Regions from separate parts of the Homo sapiens genome. Here all the other regions are linked to region 3. Evidence: fine-mapped expression QTL. A gene starts in region 3. Each other region holds a variant in brackets. All regions are shown on one strand. Distances are from middle to middle.

Region 1 (9,530 bases), 40 kb after region 3:
GACCAGCCTGGACAACATGGCGAAACGCCACATCTACAAAAAGTTTTAAAAATTAGCCGGGTGTGGTAGCACGTGCCTGTGGTCCCTGTTGCTTGGGAGGCTGAAGTGAGAGGATCATTTGAGCCCAGGAGGTTGAGGCTACAGTGAGCTGTCATTGCACCACTGCTCTCTAGCCTGGGCAGCGGTGTGAGACCCTGTCTCAAAAAATAGTAAGAAAAAAGAATTGGAGTCCTTGTCCATCGTAATGCCTGCATAGTAGTCAGGGAAGAAGAAGAGCACCACAGTGGGCCCTGGGCACTCACTTCTGCTCTGGGCCTCGCAGGCAGCTGAGCCTGAGGTGGAGGTGGAGGTGTACCGGCGGGACTCCAAGAAGCTGCCAGGCCTGGGAGACCCTGACATCGACTGGGAGGAGAGCGTCTGCCTGAATCTCATCCTGCAGAAGGTATGGGGTGGGATGGGTGGGGCTGCGGATTGGCCCTGTGGGATGGCTGACCCCTCCCTGCACGCTGACCCGTGCTCTCTTCCAGCTGGACTACATGGTGACCTGTGCGGTGTGCACACGTGCTGACGGCGGGGACATTCACATCCATAAGAAGAAATCTCAGGTGAGCCCTGGCACGAGAGCCCCCAGCCTCCTAACTGCCAGTTCAGGCTGGGCGTGGCAGAGAGAGACAAGTCCTCCTGCTTGCTTCTCTGCCCTGGAGGTGAGGGGTCTGACTCCAGAAATCTGCTCAGCTCCTGGGATCCCGTATCCCATTCGAGGAGCACAGAACCAGCTTATCCCCCACATCTCCTGGTAGGTCTCTGGCTTTGGACTGGCTCTGGGCCGGGTGGCCTCCCTATACTGGCTTGGACTGGCTCTGGGCCTGTGTGCCGGGTGGGGCCTCACTTGTCCTCCAAATCTGCTTTCTTCCAGCAAGTGTTCGCGTCCCCCAGTAAACACCCCATGGACAGCAAGGGGGAGGAGTCCAAGATCAGCTACCCCAACATCTTCTTCATGATTGACAGCTTCGAGGAGGTGAGCTCTGCACAGGGCCTCTCTCCTTAGCTTCCCCTTCTCGTGAGATGGGTGTTAGGCGCTTCTCCCCGCGGCCTTAGCCTTGCAGAAAGGCATGGGTGGCTTGGAGCCGGGAAGAGTCCGGCTGAGGCAGATGTGGCTCTCTCTCTTCCCAGTGTTTGCTTGTGGGCAGGTGAATTTCCCCGGCGCAGCCTCCGTTTCCTCCTCTGTAAAATCAGTGTCATGATCATCTGTCCTACTTACTGTCAGGGCTGAAGACTAAAAGGCTCCTGAGTGGGAGGACGCCTCATAAACTCTTGCAAGAAGCACTGCCCGGGCGGGAGGAGCCATTATTAATGCTAGTAAATGATAAAGAAGCGCCTCCACGCCTGCACTGACTTGGAATCCTAGGATGTCAAAGAGGGATGGGGTTTCCGGAGTTATCTGGGCCAAGCCTTTGTTTTAAGGTTTGGGAAACGGGCTTGGGCAGAAGGAGACTCACCGAGAAACACAGGGCACTGGGAGGGCGGGGAGGGAGCCGGTCGCAGCTCACTCCCTGCTCTGCCCATTTGTGTCTCTCCTCTGTTGAGGCCCTGGTCGGGGTCCTTGTGCGCATCCAAGGTGCTCAGGGCCCTGAGGACTTAGGAGGAAGGCGTGGGCGTCTGCAGGAAAATCGCAGGCTCAGGGAGGTCATGTCCCCTCCCCAGGCACACGTAGCTCCTAGAGGGCAGAGCTGAGATTTGCGTCTAAGTCTTTGTGGCCTCGGAGCTCACAGTCTGTGCACCAGGTCCTGGGAGCAATGACTCGGGAAGGTGGCAGGATGGGGCCTGTGGCACCTTAGTCTGGTGTTGTCACCCCAGGTGGGCAGTCACCCTGCCACCACACTGAGCCTTTGGCCACACAGGAGCCTCAAAGATGTGGCAGGCAGGGCTGGGCACCCCTAGGCGGTGTGGAGGGGCCCAGACGGTGGCTGACGGTCCTGGTGAACCGTGATGAGGGTGTGCGTCTTCTGCCAGTCCCAGAGTCTCCGTAAGCGTCCCTGTCCTCCCCTGCTGCTCAGCCCCTGCCCCAGTGTGAGGCTGTTCTTGTCCTGTGGGGCTCGGAGGGCATGGGGCCACAGGAGTGTGTGACAGCCGGTTGTCCCCTGCAAAATGGGGTTTTCTGAGCAGCCCTCCCTGCCAGTTGGGCCAGGCTGTGGTGTGGGCGGTGGGAGCTGATGGTCACGTCCCTGTCTCTTTGTGTCCTGGCCCAGGTGTTCAGCGACATGACCGTAGGGGAAGGAGAGATGGTCTGTGTGGAGCTGGTGGCTAGTGACAAAACCAACACGTTCCAGGGGGTCATCTTTCAGGGCTCCATCCGCTACGAGGCGCTCAAGAAGGTGTATGACAACCGGGTGAGTGCGGGGCGGCCTCACGGGTGTTCTTCTGGGCCCGGGGACGGCGGCTCCACAGCCCACCGTGGTCCATACCATGGGGCCCCCCAGCCTGCTTGTGCATGGTAGCGGCCGCCAGGGGTACCTGCAGCCCCTCCGGGCTCCTTCTAGGCGCTCCCTGGTCCTCTTAACGTCATTCTTCATGGTCGGCCTCAGCCCATGCGGGCCACTTGCCTTCATCTGAAATGTGAGCGGGAACTTCCTCCTCAGTCTCTAGTTCCCTGGGAAGTGATGGCTGATGGTGTCGCTGTCACCTCCTCACTGTCACTTGCTTCCTGCGACTGGCCCTGGGAGTGCTCCGAGTCGCCCCCAACTAAGCAAGCAGATGTGGGCAGGCCCCTCTCCCCCAGCGGGCACCATCCGCAGCCAGCCTTGCTGCCAGCCTGGGGCCCTGTCCTCAGCCTGGTCCGTGGTTCATGGGGCGGTGGGAGGGGCACCAGGAGGGGCACCAGGCAGAGATGTGGGTCCATTCCAGCTGCCCCGCCTGCCAGCTCAGACGCTCCCTCCCGGGCAGCCCCCGCTCCTTGAGGGATGGTCGCCCTGGCTGTTCATGTCCTGGGGAGGGGCCCCATGGAGCCATCGCCACCTCCCTGACTCAGGCTGCCCCGCGCCGGCCCCCAGGTGAGCGTGGCCGCCCGCATGGCACAGAAGATGTCGTTTGGCTTCTACAAGTACAGCAACATGGAGTTTGTGCGCATGAAGGGCCCCCAGGGCAAGGGCCACGCCGAGATGGCGGTCAGCCGAGTGTCTACAGGTGACACATCCCCCTGTGGGACTGAAGAGGACTCCAGCCCAGCTTCGCCCATGCACGAGCGGGTAAGGGCTGCACAGCTGGGGGCGGGGGCTCCCATCCGTCAAGTTCACTTTCCACCGTCTCCCCCGTGCTCACGGCCCCCTGGGGACATAGGTGTTGTCATCCCCAACCACCAGTGCGCAGGCCGAGGTGCCGAGCGTGCGGAGGCCCGGACCACCCAGCCCTTCTCTTTGCCTAGCGGTTTGTAGGAGGCACTGCCGCAGGGGAGGCGTTCCTGCCTTGCAGACCTGGAGGGCTGTGCCTGGCCAAGGTCACACCGCAGGCTGGTGCTGGGCCAGAGCTCTTTCTGCCTCCCTGAGATGCCACAAAGCCAGGCTGAGTCCACAGAGCCAGTGGGCAGAAGAGACTGGCTGGGGACCCAGGCCCGGCCCTGGCGCCTGCCTGGGTGGACCTGCTGGGTGAGCGTGGGCACGTGGCCGGCCTTCCCCGGTGAGTCAGATGGGGATGATGGTGACTGAGGGTCAGCCAGCGCATGCAGAGGCCTAGGCCACCCAGCTCTTTGCCCCGCGGTTTGTAGGAGGTTCTGCTGCAGGAGAGGCGTTCCTGCCTCGCACAGCCGGAAACCAGACTTGCCAGCTTGCCCCAGGTCACAAGGTCTCTTGGGATAGCACTGGGCTTGGGGCCCTGCTCTGCCTAGGCCACTCTCCTTCCCCAGGGCGGGAGGCTGAGGTCAGCAGCAGCTTTGTTCCCAGAAGCCTTTGGTGGGGCACAGGCAGGAGAAGGTCTCCAGCCCACTGGCTGCTTTGCTCTACCTGGTTCTTCCAGAGGGACTGCCCAGAGCTGTAGTTCTTGGAAGAGTACAGGTGTGCTGGGCAGGGGGGTGCCCTTGGCACAGGTCCAGGGGCAGTCTTGCCCAGCCATTGTCCAGGAGAGACGCCACCCACAGCCAGAATCCTGCTCTGCTGCTCTCATAACCTTGGGTGTGTCTCTTTTCCTCTCCAAGCCTCAGTTTTCTCATCTAGAAACAGGGCACGAGGATACCTGCTCCTTCAGTATTTGGGAGGCTTTGAGGAATCCGGGGCTTGGCCCTCAGGAGGATTCCCAGGTGGCAGCTGCAGTAGTTGCTGTTGACCTACTTGGAAAGCAGAGGCGTGGGAATGTAAACGATGCATTACCGCAGGCATGCCTGAGATGAGGGAGTGTGCGTTTGTTATACTTTTAGTTCGAGAAAGATCTGAATCATGCATATCTCCGGGTGGTCAGATGTTGGTTTTCTTTCTCTTCTGTATATCTTTTTTTGGGGGGGAGGTATCTTCTGCAATGAATGTGTTTTGCAAGCCAAAGACAGCAAGTGCTATTTTTTGCAAAGATGGGTGAGAATTCCAGGCAGGGGCCTCTCTTGTCTTTGGAATGAGGTGGTTTATATTTCTGAGTTTGTTTCCGAGATAAAGGGCCTGGTTCTTCTCCCTGGTCCTAAATTATGCCCTGGGACTCTGACAAAATGTGTGTGTGAAAGTCCTTACGAAGATGTGGCCCGAGCTCTGGGCTGGACAAACCCGGGTGCCACCTCCAGCCACAGCCTGAGGGCTGAGTGACTACAGGTCACTAGACCTGCCTGAGCCTTGGTTTTCCCATCTGTCCAGCGGGAGTGGCTGTGAGGGGTGTGAAAGTCCCTGGTGCCTTAGCAGCTGGGCAGCCCTGGGATTCAGGAGGAGGGATGTGCTAGGGTCACACAGGGTCAGCAGCAGGGCTGGCCCCTGGGGACTGCCGCCTGTGCGCCTGCTATTACCTGTCTCCTTCTCTGGCGGGGTCGTCTGGAGCCAGTGCGTGACACATGCTGACTCTGTGTATTGTGGTTGCTGCTGTTTGTTTCTTTTATCTTTTAAAAACCTTCCCCGGCTTGTGGGAACACCGTCTGGAGCCCAGCAGCTGCCAGGACTTTGGTGGATGTCGGAGCCGTGACGAGGAGGCTGACGGGGCTCCCGAAGTCTCAGTCCCAGCTCATCCTGCTCCTCAGATTATTGTTGGCATGGGGAGGAGGGAGGAGATGGGCCAAGTTCCCTCTGGCTGGAACGCCCTTCCCCCCCTTCTTCACCTGGCGAACTCCTACTCGTCCTTCAAGACCCAGCTCCAGCGGCATCTCCTCCAGGAAGCCTTCCCTGATTTCCCAGGCTGTGGATCCCTTTTGCCTCTGTGCTTCATGTATCCTGTGCTTCTCTTTCTCTGTCTCCACAGCCAGCATGCTGTCTATGGTTGTCACTCTCTGAGTCTGTCACCCCAGCAGACTGTGAGCTCCTTGAGGGCAGGGACCTGCAATGTGCCTGTCTGTCCTTAGTGCTGTGCCTGCCTGGCCCTGAGTGGGTGTGAATGTTTGGTGAACAGAACCAAACGTGATTAGAAGTGGGGAGAAGACAGAGGCATAGAGCTACTTAGCACAGTATTTCCTGTGAAGGGTGCTGGGAATGAGAGGGATGGGGCCACGTCAGCCCTGAGAAGTAGGATGAGGAGCGTGGCCCTGGGGGACAGAAGACAGGGCTGCTGCCGTCCTGCTTGGTGACCACAGGCAAGCCAGGGTCTCGGTCCCTGCCTTAGTTTCCCCATGTGTCAGATGGGCTGACGCTAGCCCCTGTCTCACGGAGCTGGAGGCTCAGAGGGTCTGTGTGTGGGGCCAGTGCTCACTCAGCGTCAGCAGCTGTTGTTACTTTGTGCTTGAACACCCCCTACCCACTGTTTGAGGCCCAGAGGAGGGGGGTCTTTCTGCCATTTGCGGCAGCAGCCTGGCCCCTCCTCGGGTAGCACTGGTGGCCAGGTGTCCTGCTGGCCCCTGGGCTGGAACGCATCTTCCAGTCTCTAGGCCCCACCTAGCACGGGCCGGCTGGGCCTGGGTCCTCCTGGGCCAGCGGCCTCTTCCCTGGGAGCTGTGTCAGGTTGTTTGAGGGTGGGATAGGAGGGGCGTTGGGACCCCCGGGGAGGGGGCTGTTCTGCTACTCTGGTGACTTTGGCTGCTTGTTCCCAGGTGACCTCCTTCAGCACACCCCCCACCCCAGAACGGAACAACCGGCCTGCCTTCTTCTCCCCATCCCTCAAGAGGAAGGTGCCCCGGAACCGGATCGCTGAGATGAAGAAGTCGCACTCGGCCAACGACAGCGAGGAGTTCTTCCGGGAGGACGACGGTGGAGGTGACCCCCCACTCCGTGCCCTAGGGTCCCCGTGCCCTTCAGTCTCTTCTTGATCCAGACCAGTCATTCATTCATTTATTCATTCATTCATTTGTTCATTCAGCAGCACTTAGAGAGTGGGTGCCATGTGCCAGGCAGCCCTCCAGGAGCTGAGGGGTAGAGCTGGGGACAGGCAGAAATGGCTGCCTCTGGGGGTCCCGTCCTGGTGGGCTCAGGCGTCTCCTTGGCAGAGTGCTTGGAGCGCAGATGTGCAGCAGTTGGTCAGTTTCAGGGGATTTCCCACCTTTCTAAGGCTTTTCAGCCTGCTTAAGGAAGAAAGCGGATGGGTGATCTGATGGCTCCGCACACACGGGGTGTGGCGGGAGAGAGGAGGGCTTCCCTCCCTTGCGCTGCCTTGGGCCAGCTCGCCCTCAGGGTGAGGCCTGGCCCTCCTGGCTCTGTGCAGCCTCCCAGAACCACGTGCTCTTTGGTGACACAGTCGCCACCTCGTGCAGCCTACCCCCGGGGCCTTCCTGTGCCCCTGTCCCCTGGACTCCGGTTGTCTGTATCTGGGTGTTACCATGCCCCTTAGTCCTGCCCAGGCACAGTCTGCACTCTCTCCTGAGCACCCGTGCCTGCTCCCTGTCCTCGCTCAGTGACCTTCCAGAATACAGGAGTTGTTCCCAGAGCCCCCAGGGAGGCCTCTGAGGGGTTTTAAGCAAGGGAGTGACACAATCAGATTAGCATATTTAAAATGCCACTCAGCAGTCTCTGTGGGAAATGGCTCCTGGGGACAGGCGTGGCCGTCACAGACAGGTTGGGAAGTTCTGCCATGCTCTGCTGGCATGGACCACGTGCCTTCCTCACTGTCATCCTCAGGACCCAGCGGGCGCCTGGCTCCGCACTGTGTGCGTGTCTGTTGAGTGTATGGAAGTGAAGGATTGGCCAGGCACAGTGGCTCACCCCTGTAATTCCAGCACTTAGCGAGACCGAGGCGGGTGGATCACCTGAGGTCAGGAGTTCGAGACCAGCCTGGCCAACATGGTGAAACCCTGTCTCTACTAAAAATACAAAAAATTAGCCGGGCATGGTGGTGGGCGCCTGTAATCCCAGCTACTCAGGAGGCTGAGGCAGGAGAATCTCTTGAACCTGGGAGGCAGAGGTTGCGGTGAGCCGAGATCGTGCCACTGCACTC[G/A]AGCCTGGGCAAGAGTGAGATTCCATCTCAAAACAAACAAAAAAAAACGACGTGAAGGATTCGCTGACAACTCCCACTGAGCACCTCCCCCAGCAGGGAGCAGGGCTGCAGCATTGATCAGAAGAGGTGGCAGTCTTTGTCCTGACCACTGGGACCAAGAAGCAGGGGTGTCCCACCTGCTCAAGGCCCTGGCCTGGGTCAGGGACTCCAGCACTGGCCTCGACCTGCTCTTGTGTGAACTTGGGCAAGCCCCTTCCCCACCTGGGCCCGTTCCCGAATCAGTAAGAAGTACTGATCACTGCCCTAGTCTGCCTCTCTGGGGCAGGTTCCCCCAGCCTGGACCGCAGGACTGGGTAATGGTGCAGGTCGGCTCAGCCTTGCTGCTCCCATGCTCTGCAGGTGGCGGTGCCTAGTTCCAGGGACAGGGCCTGCAGAAGCAGAGAATTACACAGTGTGTGTGCCAGAACCCCCGGAGGAGACTAAGCTTGTGACAGAGAAGAGAGAGATGAGGGGGGTGGCCAAAGTCTTCCTGGAGTTGGAGGCCTGGGTCTGGGCCAGAGGAAGCAGGGAGGGGTGTTACAGGCGAGGAGGCAGCAGCTCTGGAGCGTGTGGGTGCTGGTGTGGGGGTGTTGGTAAGGAGCGTCCTGGCCTCAGCAGAGTTTGGCCTCAGCCTGGACTGGGAGCTGGCCTCCTGCTGCTCCCGCCGCGTCCCATGCTGTGGGGGCCTTGACCTGGCCTTCTTTCCTCCAGCCGATCTGCACAATGCAACCAACCTGCGGTCTCGGTCCCTGTCGGGCACAGGACGGTCCCTGGTCGGGTCCTGGCTGAAGCTGAACAGAGCAGATGGAAACTTCCTTCTCTATGCACACTTAACCTACGTCACGTTGCCGCTGCATCGGATTTTAACAGGTAATGCTGGCGGATGTGGGGAAGCAGCCGCACCTTCTCACAGCCAGCTCTGCCTCCAGGGCCTTGGTACTTGTGAGCCACCCGGAGTCATCCCGCCCTGTCCTGTCGGTTGGTTGGGTTTCTTTGCAGGGCTCTTGGCCTCTTTGTCTCAGACTTTGGGTGGAGCCGTAGCTTTCCCAGAGCTGAAGTCCTCCCTTTGTTCACCTTTCTGGCGCACCTGCTGTCCCCTCTTGAGTGGCCACAGATGCCCAGGTGTGTGTTACTCACGGGCGAGGGGAGGCTCTCAGGCCACCTCGCTGACCCAGGCCTGCAGCAGCTGTGACAGGCAGTGGCTCTGGCCCCCACACCAGCTTGCACCTGAGGCCCTGCAGGGTGTGCCGTTGCTGCGAGCCCATTTCCCAGTCTGCAGGGTGAGGATGGTGGAGACACGTCTCCTCTGCAGTCTGTGAGGCCTGGAGAGGAGATGCATGAGTGGCTGAGGCGGGCTTCCTTCAGAAGTGGCACTGCCGTGACCATAGCACTCACCGCTGTTGAGGGTTACTGTTTCACCTGCTTCCCTCCTGCCGGCCCTAGACATCCTGGAAGTTCGGCAGAAGCCCATCCTGATGACCTAGCCGCGTGCGGAGCCTGCGCAGAGCCCCGGCCGGGCCCAGCCCTCGGAGTGCTGCCAAGTGCCTACCTGTCCACCGCCACCGGGGTCTGCGATGGCACGCCAGTGCTGGAGCCGCAGCCAGGCGAGGCCACTCGACTCCCGGGGCCGGGGCCGACTCCACGAACACCAGCCCAAACTGAAGTGCCTCTTCCCTCCCCTGCTGGCGCTGCTCCGCCCTGTGCCCCCCGCCCATCGCCCCCCACCCATCTCTGGAGAGCCCTCTGCACCCAAAGAGGACTAGAGATGCCGAGCGGCCATGAGAGAGAGCGGAAGGAGCAGCTGATGCCCAGAGCGGGGCCAGAGCGGCGGGTCTATGTTCACGTCCCCCCAGCAGCAGGCGGAACCACCCAGCCAGGGCACTCAGTGCATTGGACTGTCCACATGTTCTTGAGGAAAGCCGGTGGAAGATTCTGGAATGCCGTGCGGATGAACT
Region 2 (9,703 bases), 42 kb before region 3:
TTTCCACTGGGTGACCTTCCCTCTCTGGCACAGTTTCCTTTCCTGTAAGACGAAGGGGTTTGGGTGGGTGACTTCCACACACGTAGATGGGCCAGGACCAGCTGCATAATCTGTGGGCCCCAGAGCAAAATGAAAATGTGGGCCCTTGTTCAACAATTAAGAATTTCAAGATGGGCCAGGCATGGCAGCTCACGCCCGTAACCCAATACTATGGAGGAGGCCAAAGCAGGCTGATCACTGGAGGTCAGGAGTTCGAGACCAGCTTGACCAACATGATGAAACCCCATCTGTACTAAAAACACAAAAAATTAGCCGGGCATGGTGGTGTGCACCTGTAATCTCAGCTACTCGGGAGGCTGAGGCAAGAGAATCGCTTGAACCTGGGAGGCGGAGGTTGCAGTGAGCTGAGATTGTGTCACTGTACTCCAGCCTGGGAAATGGTGGAGACCCCGTCTCAAAAAATAAATAAATAAATAAAATACAGAATTTCAAGACGGTAGTTGCAGAGCGTCAATCCAAGAGGGGCCTCTTCTGAACTTGAGGCTCAGCGTGGCCTGCCTGGAACCTGGGATGTTCTCAGCATATAAGTTCTCAAGAAGTGTGGCTGCTCCTACTTTGCCCCTGCTCTCCCTCATCAGGACTGGGGAACTGCCGCGGCTCTCCTGTAGTGGTTTGTTTACACCCACCTGTACTCCGTGGCTGCCGACAGGGGTGCGTTACAGAGGCCCTGGAAGTTGGGATCCCACAGGCAGGTCCCGTTGGCACCCACCCTGACCAGGTAGGCATTCAGGATCTGTGAGGCCTTGGACACATCCCCAATGGCATCCAGGCTGGGCAGGTCACTGCAGGGGATCAGGTCAAAGGCCACAGCTTTGTAGGGACCTGTCCTCCCACCCTCTGTTTGTAGGAACGTTGAGCCCAGTGGGGTGTTGGTGCTGTCTTGCACTGAGGCATTCCTGGAAATGGCTGCAGAGGCGGTGCAGGGAGTCAGGCTTCTGGCCACTCCGGCTCAGCGACACTCACTCAGTTATTCATCAAATGCCTGATCATCCTTTCTGCCCCAGCTCTGTGCTGGGCACTGGCATCACAGGCATGGGGCAAACTTAGTCTCTGCCCTCTCAGTGCAATGTGGGAGATGGACAAGGATCACCTCCCTGCTTTGGGCGCTGTGTCTGACTCTCGCCTTATCTTGTGACATTCCTGCAACCCCCCATCCCAACAGACCTTTGTCTCTTCATTGCTGAAAGCCCTGGATTCTCTCTTGTGTAAAATGGGAAAGGAAGGTCATCGGTCCAAGGGAAATAACGTGGAGGCAGGACCCAGCTCTCCTCCTTACTAGATGGGTGACCTTGGACAACTCACTCTACCTCTTCAGACCCTAGTCTTCTATGAAATGGGAGAGAAATTCCCTACAGTGCCCGGAGATCAGGCACTTTAGTTTATAGTCAATAAACACATGCTGAAAGAAGAAAAGGATGGTCCCGAATGAGCTGTTGTAAATGACTGGCTGCTAGAAATGCAAGAGTTGATGTTGGCTTGTCTCAGAAGCTCAGGATCCCCTCCAGGGCAGGGGTTGGGGCTGGGCCACAGCAGCAGGTCCAAATGCATGGTTTTGTCTCAGAAACACCAATCTTGAGCCACCTTTCGAAGCCTCAGGAAGGACCTTGGGCTTGGGGACTAGAGAGATCAGGATTCACTCTCCAGCCCTGGGAGGTCCAGGGGGGGTTATTCCACCTCTCTGAGCCTTGCTTCCCTGCTCTGTAATGGGGATTGGTAATAGCTACCTTACAAGCTGGTTGTAGATACTAGCTCTATGGTGTGCAAAGTGCCTGGTATGGTGTAGGTGTTCAGTGACTGGTGGTGTTATTACTTCCCTCACTAACTGGATGTCCCTGCAAGGCAAGGACAGGTCTGTGGCTGCAGTACCTGTTTAATGAGACGACTACAGGCATGGAGGGTTCCTCTATCTGCCTCCTTCCCTCCTCCCTGCAGACAGGTCAGAGCCCCTTTTGGAGTAGCCAGAGGGAAGCAGGACCCTTACCTGAGTCGACCAGGACATACAGGTAGACCTCGTGGGTGCCAGTGAGGGCCTCTTTGCTGTCAAACATGCAGAGAGGCTTTTCCAAGGCCACAGTGGTAAGTGTGGGGTTGTTGGTGGCGAAAGTCACACTGGCCAGTTGGGGCTGCAGGTTCACAGCTGGAGGAGGCAGTGAGGATGGGAACTGACCTCCGGCAGAACTGTCCACACCCACTCTGCTTGCAGTTACTGAGCACGTGTTGTGTGCCAGGCCCTGGGCTTCACCCTCCCCCTGGGCCACCGCATAAGCTGTCTCAGACACTGCCCCCTGCCCAGTCATCCTGCTCAGAAATGGAGCGGTCGGGCCAAACTGCTGCCTTCTCTCCCTGCTGCAGACACTCAGTTGCCAAGAACTCCACTGCCCCTCCTAAGCATCTCTCCATGCCATCGGCCCAGCCCTCCTCCGTCCCACCTTCCTCACCTGGGCCCTCCCCCCACATGCAAGTCTGACTGCCTCATTCTCTGGCTATGGCCCTCCCATGGTCCCCCAGCGCCCCCTGACGAAGTCCAGCCTCTCTGGAAAGGCAGTGAGGTCCTGAAGTTCTGGGCTTTGCTTTGTTCGGTCTCCAGCCTCACCCCTTCCCCCACAGGCTCCCCTCACCCCAGGCTCCAGCTGGTCCCATGGACTGGCAGTTCCCAGGACAGCCCAATATTGTCTCCCCTCCATGAACTTGCCCATGCTGCTTCCTCGGCCGAAATATCTCTCTATCTGCCCCCGTCCAGGCGTCACCATGGGGCTGGGGCTAGTCCCTTCTCTGTCCTACCGCAGCCCCCCTGCATGTTGGTCTCTTGCAACACACATCGCAGGGCTGCAGCCATCTGTGAGCCCTCGGATTCCCAACAGAGGAGGCCCGTAAACGTTGGCTATCACTATTATTCATAACAGTAATATCTGGGTCCCCAGCGCCAGGAATCAGGGTCCAGGCGGCGGGCGCCCCAGGGCAGAGCTGCCCGCTCTTTCTGGGCTCAGCCCCCTCCTGCCCTTCACCGCCTACCCGAGCCGAACCGCAGGCAGCCGAGGGCCAGCAGGGCCCAGAGCGGAGGCATCGCCCGGGAGGAGCCGCCAGAGCGCGGGGCGGGCGGTCCAGCGAGCAGGCGCGGGCACCAGACCTGTCCCTGCCAGGGCACCTGCCAGCTCTGGGCCCTCGGCGCGCCCCGCCCCCGCCTGGGCTGGCCAATCCGCGGCCTCCTCGCGCGCTATTTGCATACGGCCCTGCCCCGGGCTTCCCCGACCCGTGCGCGGTGCCCCAGGGCGCAATCCCACCGGGCAGGACCTTCTCCAGCCCGCATCAAAGCGCCTACTGTGTGCCCAGGCCAGGGCAGCCCTTCCACAGCGTCTCTCACCAATGGGACCTTGAGGGCAAGCCACTCCCACTTGGAGCCTCAGTTTCCATACTGTAAAATGACGCTAATTTCTACAACTATTTATGGAGGCTCTATTACGTGCCAAACACTCACTGGGCACTCGCGAAACAAAATGGGTTGACCAGTAAAGGTGATATCCTGGAAAACGAAGTCCAGGCCTGGGAGCTATCCAGAGACCCTAGTATGACGCCTAGTATGACCCCTTCGGTTCACAGGTACAAGCCAAGGCCCGGGAGGCTGGGGGGTGGGGCAGGGGGTAAGTATTGGAGCGTGGTGGGGGGCGCGGGGACAGGGACTCACCCCCGGCCGCGCTTGGTCTCCTGGAGACACTGAGGCTGGTGGAACCCAGGAGTCCAGTGCTCAGCCCAGGGCTGCCTCCAAAGGGATGGAGCAGGGTGTTAATGCCTACTTCTTAAAGGGGCGTTTGAAAATTATGATGGACTCCTCACCATGACTGTGCGGTTCCCTCCATCACAAGAATCTGTGCACATCTCTGGATGCACCTTAAATCAATTTTACATTTAAGAAATAAAAGTAAGTCAACAAGGATAGGAAAAAAACAACAGAAGAGGGGCAAGGAGGCTCATGCCTGTAATCCCAACACTTTGGGAGGTCAAGATAGGAGGATCCCTTGAGGCCAGGAGCTAGAGACCATCCTGGGCATCATAGTGAGACCCCATCTCTACCAAAAAAAAAAAAAAAAAAATTAGCTCAGCCTAGTGGGGCATGCCTGTAGTCCCAGGATTGCTTGAGCCCAGGAGGTCGAGGCTACAGTGAACTATGATCATGCCACTTTGAGCTATGATTAAAGCTGCAATAACAGAGCCAGACCCTGTCTCTTAGAAAAAAGATAAAGAAAATCAACAGAAACTAATTAATCTCTGTATGACGTTGATGACATAACCTCACTTGCAGAAAAAGAATAAAACGATCTGAGTAATTATAGAGCTGGGTTGTCCAGGGGTACCTCCTTAGTGGAGTACACTCTAAGAACTGGGAGGCCTGTGACAGAACCCCAAACCTCACTAGTGACTTTGTTATTGGCAGTGGGGAGGGCGGAGCCATTCCGAAGCAACTTTGGGTTATCCTAGGATTGGTGGTACCAGAACCCAGATTCTCACTGTAGGATGAGGGAGATTTGGAATGGAGGAAGGAAGCACATGAGGTCAGTGTGTCCCATTATTGGGGATGTTCCATTTCATCATTTGGTAAAGTTGGTATCTCTGGATTAATGTATGTCTTGTTCCCTAAAAATCTTTTTTTTCTTTTTTTTTTTGGGGGGGACGGAGTCTTGCTCTGTCACCCAGGCTGGAGTGCAGTGGCGTGATCTCGGCTCACTGCAAGCTCCACTTCCCACGTTCACGCCATTCTTCTGCCTCAGCCTCCCGAGTAGCTGGGACTACAGGCACCTGCCACCATGCCTGGCTGATATTTTGTATTGTTTTAGTAGAGACGGGGTTTCGCTGTGTTAGCCAGGATGGTCTCAATCTCCTGACCTTGTGATCCACGCACCTCAGCCTCCCAAAGTGCTGGGATTACAGGCGTGAGCCACCGCGCCCGGCCCTTGATCCCTAAAAATCTTTCCCCAGCTGGATGCGGTGGCTCACGCTTGTAATCCCAGCACTTTGAGAGGCCGAGGTGGGCAGATCATGAGGTCAGGAGTTTGAGACCAGCCTGGCCAACA[C/T]AGTGAAACCCCTTCTCTACTAAATATACAAAAAAACCCAAAAAACTAGCCAGGCGTGGTGGCAGGCGCCTGTAGTCCCAGCTACTTGGACATCCATGTCCCGCCCAAAAGGTTTAACTTGAATCTCATCAATAGGAAACCATCAGACAGTTCTCAGCCTTTTGTTTTGTTTTGCTTCTGTCTTTCCTGATGTGAACATTTGCAAAGCATCCAGTCCAGCTGGTTTGCAGAAAGTCCCTGCATGTGGATCTGTCTGATGGTTTCCTATTGATGAAATTCAAGTTAAACCTTTTGGGCAGGACATGGTCATGACGGTGAGTTCTAATCAGTGCTACTTGGGAGGCTGAGGCAGGAGAATCTCTTGGACCCAGGAGGTGGAGGTTTCAGTGAGCTGAGATCGCGCCGTGCCACTGTAATCCAGCCTGGGTGACACAGTGAGACTCCGTCTCAAAAAAAAAAAAAAAGCAAGCTGAATGTATGACTTCCATTATTTATTTTGTGCTCAAATGTTCCCAGGCCTGGCTGTTGGCAGCTCCTTCCAGCAGCTCTGTGCTAGCTGCTTTCACGCTCCCACCATTCTTTGAGAACCTCTTTACTTTCTGGCACAATAAAATGTCCCGGGCTCCTCTTGACATTCCCTGTCCCAGCTCTGGATTCAGCCATCTCTCCAAGGGGCACTGGTGCCTTTCACTGGAGACTGGAGTTTAAGATCTAACAGTGGCAAGGTGCCTCTTGCAACTGGGTATTACTGCTTCTCGGTCTGTCTCAATGAACCTAGTTTTTTCTTTTTCTTTCTTTCTTTCTTTCTTTCTTTCTTTCTTTCTTTCTACCTTCCTTCCTTCCTTTCTTTCCTTCCTTCTTTCTTTCTCCTTCCTTCCTTCTTTCTTTCTCCTTCCTTCCTTCCTTTCTTCCTTCCTTCTTTCTTTCTTTCTCCTTCCTTCCTTCCTCTCTTTCTTCTTTCTTTGTCCTTCCTTCTTTCTTTCTTTTTTTTTTTTTTTTTTTTGAGACAGTTTTACTCTATTGCCCAGGCTGGAGTGCAATGGGGTGATCTTGGCTCACTGCAACTTCCACCTCCTGGGTTCAAGAGATTCTCCTGCCTCAGCCACCCACCTGAGTAGCTGGAACTACAGGCGCACGCCACCATGCCCAGCTAATTTTTTTGTATTTTTAGTAGAGACGGGGTTTCACCATGTGGCCAGGCTGGTCTCGAACTCCTGACCTCAAGTGATCCACCCGCCTCAGCCTCCCAAAGTGCTGGGATTACAGGCCTGTGCCTGGCCAGCCTTTTTCTTTTCTTTTCACTTAAAAATCTTGTTTTAGTAATTTTTTTCCATAACTAATTACAAATAACAAAACACCAGCATTTTCCTTCTTCCATTCCAAATCTCCCTCATCCTACAGTGAGAATCTGGGTTCTGGTACCACCAATCCTAGGATAACCCAAAGTTGCTTCACAATGGCTCCGCCCTCCCCACTGCCAATAACAAAGTCACTAGTGAGGTTTGGGGTTCTGTCACAGGCCTCCCAGTTCTTAGAGTGTACTCCACTAAGGAGGTACCCCTGGACAACCCAGCTCTATAATTACTCAGATCGTTTTATTCTTTTTCTGCCAGTGAGGTTATGTCATCAACGTCATACAGAAATTAATTAGTTTCTGCTGATTTTCTTTATCCTTTTTCTAAGAGATAGGGTCTGGCTCTGTTATTGCAGCTTTAATCATAGCTCAAAGTGGCAAGATCATAGTTCACTGTAGCCTCGACCTCCTGGACTCAAGCAATCCTGGGACTACAGGCATGCACCACCAGGCTGAGCAAGTTTTTTTTGATTTTTTTTTTTTTGGTAGAGATGGGGTCTCACTATGTTGCCCAGGATGGTCTCTAGCTCCTGGCCTCAAGGGATCCTCCCAGCTTGCATGTGGATAAAGTGTCATGATACCTGAAACTAACATATATATGAGATTCGAGAGAAAAAGAGAAAGTAAATTTAGTGTAATGTTAGCAATTGGTAAATAAGTATGAGTATTTACTGTAGTGTTCTTGAAATGTTTCTGTAGGTTTGACATTTTTCAAAGTGAAAATGTTGGGGGACAGAGTCTGTTCTCTGCCACAGAAATGCACTGTTCCCCTCTTTGGGTGTCGGTTTACCTTCTAGAAAGTGGGGAGGGAGTTTGGTCACCTCTCAGCCCTGACATGCAGAGAGCGGATGATCAGATCCTTATCTTCAGCACACAGAAAATGTCCCAGAGGTAAGGAACTCTTGAACAGGGCTGCGGTTTTCTTCCAAGAATTTTTATAGACTGACATTTCTTGTTCAACAATTGTTTGTGAACCTGGTTGTGAACCTGCAGTTTATCAGAGGCCAGCAGGGTTGATTTTCTTTTTTTTGAGATGGAGTCTTGCTCTCTCACCCAGGCTGGAGTCCAGTGGGGCGATCTCGGCTCACTGCACGCTTCGCCTCCCAGGTTCAAGCCATTCTCCTGCCTCAGCCTCCCAAGTAGCTGGGACTATAGGTGTGCACCACCACATCTGGCTAATTTTTGTATTTTTAGTAGAGACAGGGTTTCACCATGTTGTCCAGGCTGGTCTTGAACTTCTAACCTCAAGATCCACCAGCCTCAGCCTCCCAAAGTGCAAGGATTACAGGTGTGAGCCACCGTGCCTGGCCTCAGCAGGGTTGATCTTAAAGGCCCAGCTCAGAATCACCTGTGAGAGGAAGTAGGCCCAGGAAATTGTTTTCTCCAAAACGCTGCAGTTTCTTTAAAAAAAAAACAAAAACCCCAAAAAGTCCTCTTGTCTCTTGCCTTGCCCAAATATGGGGAGAACATTTGAAGGAAAATGTTAAAACAATAATCTGCAAAGGCCCAAAACATGTTCTGGAAAGAAAAAAATCTTAGATTTATAAACAAATGTCCACTTCAAAGATTGCTGACTTTTGTTTGGCTCATTCTGAAGAGGGGGAAGTACAGGAGAAATGAGTCATGGTGGGAAATTCACTTGGGAGAGACCATTGCTTGTGTCAGTGGAGGGGAAACAGGAGAAAAAGGGGGCCTGACACCTGCCAGTGTCCCTTGCTGCTCCACGTGCACTTTCCTAAGTTTATTTGTTTTTTTCTTTTTTTTTTTTTTTTGAGACAAGATCTCTCTGCGTCACCCAGGCTGGAGTGCACTGGCATGATCCCTGGTCACTGCAGCCTCGACCTCGCTGAGCTCAAGCTATCCTCCCACCCCAGCCTTTCTAGTAGCTGGGATTACAGGCAGGGGCGACCACACCCAGCTAATTTTTGTATTTTTATAGAGGTGGGATTTCACCATGTTTCCCAGACTAGTCTAAAACTCCCAGGCTCAACTGATCCTCCTGCATCGGCCTCCAAAGTGCTAGGATTACAGGCATGAGCCACTGTGCCCAGCCCAAAGTTAAAAAAAAATTTTTTTTAATGTTTCCTTTTTGATCAGGCCACTTCTAGAGCACTCAGATTCAGTCTGACTTGAGGTCATTTATACATCTAGATCCATCAGACCGTCCTTCTGAACCCTGGCCTGGAGGATGTGTTTGTCTGAGGCCAGAGAGGCAGGAAGTTTTGCGATGTGAAAGGTTAAGCAAAGCCCAGCCCTTCACAGACCTCCTTTGAATCTGAAGCATGGGGAATTTATGGGCTGGAAATTCTTGACCCAGAAATGTCTCTCCAAACACTGAAGAGCCCGGGTCCAGTCGGTTTCCATGACTCCTCTCTTCAGAAGTCAGAGAAGTTGCAGGAATCCCACCACAGCAAGTGCTGGCTTTCATTGTGGGGGCTCTGTCCCAGGACTCTGGAAGTCAAGCTTTTCAGTGCTTTCAGATTCAGCTACTTTATTTATTTATTTAGAGATGGAGCCTTGCTCTGTTGCCCAGGCTGAAGTACAGTGGGGCAATCTCAACTCACTGCAACCTCCGTCTTTCGGGTTCAAGCGATTCTTCTGCCTCAGCCCCCCATGTAGCTGGGATTACAGGTGCGTGCCACCACACCCAGCTGATTTTTGTATTTTTTTTAGTAGAGATGGGGTTTCACCATGTTGGCCAGACTGGTCTTGAACTCCTGACCTCAGGTGATCCACCTGCCTCAGCCTCCCAAAGTGCTGGGATTACAGGTGTGAGCCATTGTGCCCGACCAGAGATTCAGTCACTTTAAAACGAGAAACAAAAACCCCAGTGGAGAAACCCAAGTCCCTGCCTGGTGCTCACTCGTCTATCCTCACTCTGTGATGAGGACGCCCACTTTGCTCTAAGGGGCCCCCACCTGTCTCCCAAGCTCCAGACCCACATTTCCAGCTGCCCGTCCTGCAGAACATGCCCTCCTTGGTGACTCCAAGGGGCCGCGCATGACAGGACTCTCTGAAGAGCCGTGTTCAGCCCTGGCTGTGATTCTCATTGTGGTGGTCCTTACCCTTGGTTTCTTTTTCAGGAAGATGGGGATGCTCAAGGGGTCCTCTTGCAGAGGGGTGGGATGAAGTGCAGTCGTGGGTGTGAATGTGCCCTGTGACTGCGGTGGTGGGCAGTGGCAGGGTCCCCCACATTCCCCAGGTGTCACCACAGCCCTGGGCT
Region 3 (9,703 bases):
CTTAACACTGTCTGGTGGCTGGGCGCAGTGGCTCACACCTGTAATCCCAGCACTTTGGGAGGCAGAGGCGGGCGGATCACGAGGTCAGGAGATCGAGACCATCCTGGCTAACACAGTGAAACCCTGTCTCTACTAAAAATACAAAAAATTAGCCGGGCGTGGTGGCGGGCGCCTGTAGTCCCAGCTACTCAGGAGGCTGAGACAGGAGAATGGCGTGAACCCGGGAGGCGGAGCTTGCAGTGAGCCGAGATCGCGCCACTGCACTCCAGCCTGGGCCACAGAGTGAAACTCAGTCTCAAAAAAACAAACAAACAAACAAACAAAACAACAAAAAAACACTGTCTGGCTCTTTGAATAAGATCAGCCCCAAGCATTTGGAGATAAAAATGTGTGCTGTCGGACACCGCTGTTACAATAGTGTAGAGGGATGGCATTAGGCAAACCCCGGGCAGGAACTCTGAAAAATGAAGCAAGACTGACCTATTAAAGCAATTGGATTGTGGTTGTTTTTTCTTTCTGCTAAACTTTGCTTGATTGTTGTTCTAAGTGTTTGCAAAATAAACCTCAGGGATAGAAGCGCTTAGGTGGAGAGCTGACACAATGCCCACATCTCAGGCTTGCCCACGTATTGGTATCACTGCTGTAATAATTACTACAACGTTATTGCCTTAACACATTTCCAGTTCTGTAGGTTAGAAGTTCAACTGAGGTCTTGCTGAGCTAAAGTCAAGGTGCAGGCAGGGCTGTGTCATATCTGGGGGCAACTGTAGGAGAATCTGTTTCCTTGCCTCTTCCAGCTTCCGGAAGCTGCCTGTATGCCTTGTCTTGTGGCCCCTTCCTCCCTCTTCAGTGCCAGCAACATTGCATTTACCTGACCATTCTTGTGTTGTCACATCTCTTTTTGACCACAGCCAGGAAATGTTCCCCGATTTTAAGAATTTATGTGATGAGATTGGGCCCACTTGGATAACCCAGGATAGTCTCCCTATCTCAGTGTCTGTACTCTTAGGCCCCATGTGGCAGCTCATGCCTGTAATCCCGGCACTTTGGGAGCCCGAGGTGGGCAGATCACTTGAGGTCGGGAGTTCGAGACCAGCCTGGCCAACATGGTGAAACCCTGTCTCTACCAAAAAATACAAAAAATAGCCGGGTGTGGTGGCACACACCCTTAGTCCCAGCTACTCAGGAGGTTGAGGTGGGAGGATGGATTGAGCTGGGGAGGTGGAGGTTGCAGTGAGCTAAGATCGTGCCACTGCACTCCAGCCTGGGCAACTGAGTGAGACCCTGTCTCGAAAACAAACAAACAAAAAATCACGTCAGCAAAGTCCATTTTGCCAGGTAAGGCAACATATTCACAGGAATTAGCACAGGAATTAGGGTGTGGGCATTTTGGGGCCATTATTCTGCCTATATACTTTCAATTCTATTTTATATTCTGAATATTTGTATACAGAAAAGTGCATAAATAATTACAAAATGCCAGCTTTATATATATATTACATACATATATTACATATATAACATATATATTATATATATTACATATATATATGTTATATATACATATATATATATTTTTTTTTTGAGACCAGGTCTCACTCTGTTGCCTAGGCTGGAGTGCAGCAGTGTGATCGCGGCTCACTGCAGCCTTGACTTCCCCGCCTCAAGCAATCCTCCCACCTCAGCCTCCTGAGTAGCTGTGACCACAGACGTGTGTCATCACACCTGGCTAATTTTTTTTTTTTTGTAAAGATGAGGTCTTGCTATGTTGGCCAGGCTGGTCTCAAACTCCTGGGCCTAAGCCAGCCTCCTGCCTGCCTTGGCCTCCCAAAGTGCTGTGGTTACAGGTTTGAACCACAGCACACAGCCTTTTGATTTTCTAACTTTTTTTTTTTTTTGAGATGGAGTCTCGCTCTGTTGCCCAGGTTGGAGTGTAGTGGCACAATCTCGGCTCACTGCAACCTCTGCCTCCCAGGTTCGAGCGATTCTCCTGCGTCAGCCTCCAGAATAGCTGGGACTACAGGTGTGTGCCATTACGCCCAGCTAATTTTTGTATTTTTAGTAGAGATGGGGTTTCGCCAGGTTGGCCAGGCTGGTCTCGAACTCCCGACCTCAGGTGATCTGCCCGCCTTGGCCCCCCAAAGTGCTGGGATTACAGGCGTGAGCCACCATGCCCAGCTGTGCAGCCTTTTAATTTTCATAAACTGACCACACCCGTGTAACCAGCCCCCAGATCAAGAAACAGAACATGCTCTGTAGCCCCAGAAGTCCTGCTCCTGCCCTCTTCCCATGCACAGTGTGATTTAGCATTTGTTGACATTAGAAAATTCTGTGTATATGTGAGGTCAGGAGTTCGAGACCAGCCTGACCAACATGGAGAAACCCCATCTCCATGAAATTAGCCGGGCGTGGTGGCACATGCCTGTAATCCCAGCTACTTGGGAGGCTGAGGCAAGAGAATTGCTTGAACCTGGGAGGTGGAGGTTGCGGTGAGGCGAGATCGCGACATTGTACTCCAGCCTGGGCAACAAGAGCAAAACTCCGCCTCAAAAAAAAAAAAAAAAAAAAAGAAAGAAAGAAAATTCTGTGTATAGGTAATACCTGGAGTATTATTGAAATACAAAGGAGAGAGCCCAAGCGATGTTTGTTTACTCATTCATTCAACAGATATTTTTCTGGCACCAGTCCTGGGCTGGGTGCCACGGGAAGTGGGATGAATTGGTTCAATGCTGGTCATATGACACAGAATACACGGAGGCAACTGTGTGCAGGAGGGTGGGGTGGGGAAAGGGGGTTTGTGAAGCAAATAAGAACACAATGCATTGGCCAAGCGTAACCAGGCAATGTGGGTCCCAAAGGCAACTACAGTTGCGGAGCAGAAAGGATTTCAGGCCAAGGGAACACTGTGGGCAAACGCATGGCAGTGGGAACAGGCAGGGGGTGCTGTGGGGTTTGGGGAGGCAAAGAGGGATGTGACTATTGGACTTGACAGCCTTGGAGCACTCGCTCATGCTGTCTGATCCACCATCCCCAGTTCTCACGTCCACCAGCCCAAACCCCAGCTCTCCAGACGCAGAACCAGAGGCCTCAGCCCTCATGCCAGTGTCCTCACTTTACAGACAGGGATGCAGGCCCACTGGAGAAGAGAAATACACGTGAGGCTGGTCGCGCACTTCCTTCATTCCCTCACTGCTCACCTTTCTACAGAGCCCTCCTGGGCCTGGCACTGGGGACACAGAGGGGTCAGATGTGGCTCTGCTCTGAAGAGTTCAGGGGCCAGTGGCACAAAACTGGGGCAGAGGCCTGAAGCAGGATCCAGATCCCATCTCCCTTCTGGGGCTCTGCCCAACCCCACGGCTCCTTCCTGCTGTGCCTCCCAGGAAGACCCCTGCGTCCCCATCAGACCTCTCCATCATTCTTCGTTTATGCAGCCTACATTTTTTTTTCTTTTCTTTTCTTTTTTTTTGGGGGGGGACAGGGTCTTGCTCTGTCTCCCAGCTTGGAGTGCAGTGGCGGGATCTCGGCTCACTGCAGCCTCCGCCTCCCAGGTTCAAGCAATTCTCCTGCCTCAGCCTCCAGAGTAGCTGGGATTACAAATGTGTGCTACCATGCCCGGCTAATTTTTGTATTTTTAGTAGAGATGGGGTTTCACCATTTTAGCCAGGCTGTTCTGGAACTCCTAACCTCAGGCAATCCACCTACCTCGGCCTCCCAAAGTGTTGGGATTACAGGCATGAGCCACTGTGCCCAGCCTGCAGCCCATATCTATTTATTGGGCATCTAATGTGTGCCAGGCAATGTTCTGGGTACTGAGACAACAGCTGTGTAGTAGACAGGCCCCTCCCTCGGTAGAGAAGAGAACAAGTGAACCCATAGGTATCCAATGTGTCGGGAGGAGGTAAGTGTCACCCTGTGAAGGAGAAACAGACTAAGGGAAGAGAGAGGGAGGGAAGGCGGTCAGGGGAGTTTCTTTGAGGATGTGACACTCGGGACACAAAGGAAGCAAGTTACACAGGAATGGGGAGAAGAGGACTCCAGACAGGGGAAAGGGGGACCTTGATGGGTCTGGGGTCCACACACAGGCTGTGAATGCAGGGAGTGATGTAGATTTAGCTTTGGAGAGACCTGGAAATCAATGCTGGTCTCTCCATCTCCCCCTGTTCTTGGAAATGGACCACCAGGCGTGAGGTTTGGGGAGGCCACTGGCTGCTTCTCCGGTGTCTTCCTGTATCAGCCACAACTAGCACACGGAGGGATGCTGGCCAGACCTGGCTTCATCAGGATGACACGCCCAGCTAACCTCATACCTCCCCCTTCATCAACACTCCCCCATGTTGGGGAGGCAAGGCAGGGAAAGGTCCCCCATGGTGCAGCTGAGGAAATGGAGGCGCAACACTCTGCACTGTGCCAGGTGCAGAGGAGGGGGGCCGGAAGGGCTTTGCCACGGTGTCCCCCAGGAGACCACCTTCTGGGAGCAGGTGACCTCTTGAGGGGTTCTGCGGAGGAAGTTCCCAGAAGTCAGCCGAGGGGACTTGGTGGAGGTGGCAACGCACAGGGCGGGTGACAAAGTACACATCCCGTGGGGTAGCAGCGGGGGAGGGGAGAGGTGCCCTGAAGGGGCGGCGGGAGGGGCTCAGAGGCGTGATCCCGTTGGTGGGGCGTTTAGGACCTTGGGTGGAGGCGGGACCCCGCGAGCGGTTTGAGGGAGGCTGTCCTGGGCATCCGAAGATTGGCGGAGACTGGCCGTTTGGAAGTGGGCGGGGCAAGGGAGGTCAGGGGGCGGGGCCAGGGAGCCGGGGTGGGTCCGGGCCGTTCAGAGGCGGGGCGGGAGGGGACAGGGGCGGGGCCGGGGCGGGGAAGGGGCGGGGCCGGACCGGGGCCGGGCCGGGCCGGGGCGGGGCGAGCGGAGCCGGGGGCGCGCGGGCGGCGGCGGCGCGGAGGTGCGCTCGCCGGTGCTGTGTTTGGCGGGTGGTGGCGGCGGCGGCGGCGACGGCGACGCGCACAGAGGCGGACTGTGGCTTCCTTGGTGCTCGCGGCGGGCTGCGGGCCGGGCCGCCCGCCCTCCCCGCCGCCGCCGCCCCCGAGCCTGCGGGCGGCGCCGAGGCCGAGGAGCGCTCGCTGCAGCACATGCTGCGTGCCATAGCGGAGGAGCGCGGCCGTCTTAGCCTGCGCCGCGAGGTCTGCGGCCTCGGTGAGTGGGACCCGGGGGCGAGGCCGGGCCGGGAGAGGTGAGCGTCTCCGGGGCCGCCTCTGCGCGTCCGTGTTTCTGTGCGCCCCGCGCATCTCTGTCTCTGCGCGGGTGTCGTGGTCTCTGGGTCTGCCTGGGTACCCTGTCTTCCTCCATGGCCCCCCCCCCACCGTCCCTGCATCTGGGTCTGTCTCTGCTTTCCGTCCGACGAGCGCCCCGCACCCCTGTGCCCGGGTCTCATTCGGCGTCTCCCCCTGTCAGTCCGTCCGGGTGTCTGTCTCATCTTCCTCCTTCTTCTTCGTGTCTCTGCGGGTCTTCTTCCTTCTCCAGGAAGCCCGCCCCGGGCCCTCAGCACCGCGGTAGGGAGTGTGGGCGTGGGATCTGGGTACACCCTTAGCCCAGCGCGGCAGGGTCGGGCCCTCGTTGGGCTCTGGGTGGACCTCGCTGCGAGCGTGCCCTGGCCACTGTCTCCTGCTACCCGAAGCCTTTGTCTTTCCGCACCCACCGGCCCCTCTCATCCCTTAGCTGTATCCAGGGACCTGTTGGGCAATGGCCCCCCGAACCCGCCCGCTTGGCTGAGGGGCAGGGCCTGCTGCCTCTCGGTGTGATTCTGGGCTTTAAGTCATGGATCTGCTGGGGGGCGTGGGATGGGGGTGCCTCGTATTGTTTGGAAGGGCCTGGGACTGCAGGTGTGGGTGGGGTCTCCCAGCCAGTGAGGTAATCCATTACTGATGGATCATGCCCAGACTGAAGCCCAGGAGAAGCCCCCTCTTTTGTCGTCTCAGGTTCGTCATTTTCTCCATGGAAAAGACCCCTCCCTCCTCCGTGCAGGGAATGACTTCATACCACATTGTCAGCCACCCCCCACCCCACCCCCAGGCTAGGCTGGGGATTTCTGAGGGGGTGACAGCATTGCTGAGTACGGAATGTCAGCCTTCCAGATTCACCCCTTCATTCACCGTTGGGGAAACTGAGTCCCAGAGAACAAGTGCATCCCCCTAAGGTCACACAGCTGCAGGGACATGGCAGTCCCAGGCATTCAGGGCCCCTCAGCAGGCCACACCCTGGAGGCTGGAGTGGAGAGAGGAAGTAAATTTGAATCCCTTTTGTAGGAGGCAGGCTTAGCATGGGAGGCTTCCCAGTGAGCAGGCCCCAGCCTAGCCTGCCCAGGCGAGCCTTTCCTCATGCAGGGGTGGGGTGGGGGGTGCTTATGAAGTGAAATGGACAAGAACTTCAATGGTTGACAAGGTTTCAATGGTTTCTTTCTGAAAAGGTGTCAAGATTTACTTTTGAGCAGAAGTTGGAGCGTGCTTATTCATTCATTCTGCAAACATTCATTGAGCACCTACTGTGTGCCACCGTGGCAGGCCCACCTGTCAGCTGGCACCGAATATCTGAGCTGGGATGCATCTGAAGGACCATCTGCTGCAGGTCACTTGGCCCTGTTTGCTCAGCAGCTTCAAGCAGTCCCTCCCCACTCCCCTGTCCACACACACCTATTGTCCTCTGACCACCTTTACCTGTGAGCACCTTCTCTCCTCTTCTAGGCAGCCCCTCCCGCAAGGAGGCTGCAGGGCCATTCCCAGAAGAACAGTGAACAGTGAAAATGGCACCTAGCATTTACTGAGCACTTACTATGTGCCGGGTGCTTTACTCATGCTGCAAATTTAATCCTGACACAATGCTGACTTTGCCAGGGAGCAGTATTATCTCCATATCAGCGATGAAGAGCCTGAGGGTGAGAGAGAGAGAGAGAGAGAGAGAGAGCCTGCCCAGGGACAACCAATGAGGAAGCAGCATAGCAGCATAGCCGGGACTGACCCTCTGCCAGCCTGACCTCAGAGCCTGCCCTCCACTCCCTGAATATCCCCAGCCAGGTCTTTATGTGCCTACGATACTCACGCTGTTTCCTTGTCTCTTCTCCAGGCCTCCCGCACGTGCCAGGTCTCCCCTCTTCCCCTGCTGCTGAACTCAGTCCCTGCAGGGCTCTGAAGCAGAGAAAACCTGCTGTTTTCTCTGCCCGGAAAGCCGCCCCTACTCATGTGCCCCACAAGCATCTCTAAGTTTTCCTTTAAGTCTCAGCTCCAGTGTTGCCTCTCCGGGAACTCTTTCCAGCTCCCAGGCACACAGTCCTGTTCTGCCTGTGTTCTCTTTGTGCCAGGCACATGTTTGTTGGGACAATCAGGATGATTGTGGCCTTGTCATGGTCTGTGTGCTGTCTCCCCAGTTAGCAGGTGAGGCCTTCAAAGGCATTACCCAGTCTGATTCATCTTGGTGCCCAGCATGGGGCACATACGGAGCAGGTGCCCAGTAAACATTTAGTGAACAAGTGAGAAAATTATTATCTGGACTGGCAGATGAAGGGCGTGGAGGGCCACGGAGATGGGAATCTTAGCTTCTTAGAAGGCCTCATTTTTGGCCGGGCGTGGTGGCTCATGCCTGTAATCCCAACCCTTTGGGAGGCTGAGGCGGGCGGATCATGAGGTCAGGAGTTTGAGACCAGCCTGGCTAACATGAGGAAACCCCCGTCTCTACTAAAAATACAAAAAAAAAAATTAGCCAGGCGTGGTGGCGGGCGCCTATAGTCGCAGCTACTCAGGAGGCTGAGACAAGAGAATGGTGTGAACCCGGGAGGCGGAGGTTGCAGTGAGCCGAGATCACGCCACTGCACTCCAGCCTGGGCTACAGAGTGAGACTCTGTCTCAAAAAAAAAAAAAAGGGCTCATTTTTCAGATGAGAGATTTGATGTTCAGCGAGGGGTGAGCTTACTAGGAACTTGATGCCCAGAGTGGAGCGCACCTCTCACCTCTCAGGTGTGAGTCCTGAGAGGAGCCAGAACACCAGCCCCGGAGCACTTCTGCGTCCACTGAATCATCAACACTCTCAAGCTGTGGGGGCAGGGTTGTGTTTGATCATCTCCACTTCACCTCTGTGACAGCCTGTTAGATTTATGAATGAATTTAAATCTCCCAGATTTTTGTTGTTGTTTAGCAAAAGCTTGGGTTACTCAGAAACCTGCTGTGTCCTCTGACGTTGTTTTGAAGGTGTCAAGGGAGCCTCAGGTGGAGGCGCTGGGCTTTGGTTGAGTGGTTGTCATTCTCTGAGTCAGTGTCTGTCTCTGAGATGGGACTAAGCTCCTGGCCCTCCTCACTCAGGGGTCATCGCTCAGCTCTCGTGATGAAAGGCACCTTGTAGATTTCACATCTGGCTTTTGAGGCTTGTCTGTGGCAGCCTCTGCAGTAGAAGGGGAGTTGAGCACTTGCTCTGTACTGAGAGGGGGCGGGAGTGTTGGGCCCTGATCCCTGCCTTGTGGGAGGGCACAGTCCATGGGGGAGACAGCCAGGAGCACAGGTCACTGTTAGCTGAAGTACAAACCCTGCTGGAAGCAGTGGGGCTGCGGCTGCCCGGAGCAAGATTTTGGTGTTGCATCCACAGGACACTGCTCATGACTCCAGGTCACAGATGAACCAGGTGATTCAGGACCCAGGTGTGCGATGCAGACATTTGGACTGAAGGGGGACAAACCCTGCCACTTCTTCCCGGGGCTTGGGCCTTCTCCTGGGCCCTGGGCCTCAGCCCAAGCACACAGGCTCCCTTTCAACAGGGGCAGCCCACCCGACAGTTGGTCAGGTAACGTGGACGCGACCTGGGCCCAAGACCTGGTGTGAGTCCTGAGAGGTGCCGTGAGCAGGTGGGACCCACATCCGGCTGCTTGTCTCTGTGCCCTGCCTCAGCTGAGCATTCTTGGAGCAATTTGTGCCTGGCATTTGGGGCTAAGGGATTCTCCCTGTGTCCGGAGTGGTGCAGAGAAGGGGCATTTTATGTTCATTCTTTCCTTTTGTCTTTGGAGTAATCCTGTGGGCTAGACATTGTTCTGTTCTTCTCTTTGTCCTGATGAGGGAACACAGGTTGGGGGGAAGTAAGGTGCCCCCAGCTGCAAGGCTAGGAAGTGGCCGAATCTTGCTGAGCCCAAGCTCTTAATTGCTTAACCCTGCGCAGAGGTGAGGCCCACCTAGACCCGTCCTCAGGGTGCTGAGGGTATGGTGTTCCAGGTTGTGTGGCAGCCTGGCCACAGTGGATGGAGGCAGGACCCCAGTGGAGCTGTGAACACTTAGCCAGAGGCCACAGAGAATGGAGCCACCAGCGTGGCCCATGGGAGGGGTTTGTGGACAGCGTAGTCTTCAAGCAGGGCTGAGGCTGGATGGGCTTGTGTGGATGGAGGAGCAGAAGCTCACTTTGCTCTAAGCAGGGCTGTATAAGTCGAGGCTGGAGTAATCCCTGGCTCAGAACTTGGTATTTCCCAGCCCTGGCCTCGGGAAGCCCTGCAGGTGTGATTTGTGGGGCGGCTGCACGGGAGGGGCCATCAGTGCAGAGGATGCTGCGTGCCTGCCGCGAGCCGGTGCCTAACACCTGCCGCGTTTCCTTCAGTCCTGCTCCCGGAGAGGTGGGTTCTGTCTTGACCTCATTCTGCAGGTGAGGAAGCTGAGCTTCAGCGTGGGGAGGGATGTACCCACA

Evidence for each region. PIP is the estimated chance that this variant, and not a neighbour inherited with it, causes the effect. A credible set is the group of variants that fine-mapping cannot tell apart.
Region 1: its variant is the best candidate, but not a certain one, in a credible set for the expression of KIAA0930 in whole blood (TOPMed, PIP 0.65).
Region 2: its variant is the best candidate, but not a certain one, in a credible set for the expression of KIAA0930 in whole blood (TOPMed, PIP 0.74).

Annotation. Positions count from the first base shown.
Region 1 is chr22:45,196,705-45,206,234 of GRCh38, reverse strand. KIAA0930 reads left to right here. Exons shown (of 10, transcript NM_001009880.2): 3 at 323-442; 4 at 528-605; 5 at 917-1,018; 6 at 2,250-2,390; 7 at 3,051-3,245; 8 at 6,200-6,362; 9 at 8,287-8,445; 10 at 9,019-9,530. The coding sequence ends at 9,059. MIR1249 (microRNA 1249) reads left to right here and starts at 5,216; the gene lies at 5,216-5,281. RefSeq lists a cis regulatory region at 3,836 and an enhancer at 3,764-3,908. The variant G/A (reference allele first, on the strand shown) is at 7,537.
Region 2 is chr22:45,278,435-45,288,137 of GRCh38, reverse strand. UPK3A (uroplakin 3A) reads right to left here and starts at 3,189. Exons shown (of 6, transcript NM_006953.4): 1 at 3,073-3,189; 2 at 2,042-2,197; 3 at 687-966. The coding sequence starts at 3,124. RefSeq lists a silencer at 3,059-3,368. The variant C/T (reference allele first, on the strand shown) is at 5,127.
Region 3 is chr22:45,236,128-45,245,830 of GRCh38, reverse strand. KIAA0930 reads left to right here and starts at 4,937. Exons shown (of 10, transcript NM_001009880.2): 1 at 4,937-5,191. The coding sequence starts at 5,128. RefSeq lists silencers at 4,614-4,813, 4,844-4,903, 5,064-5,123, 5,274-5,363.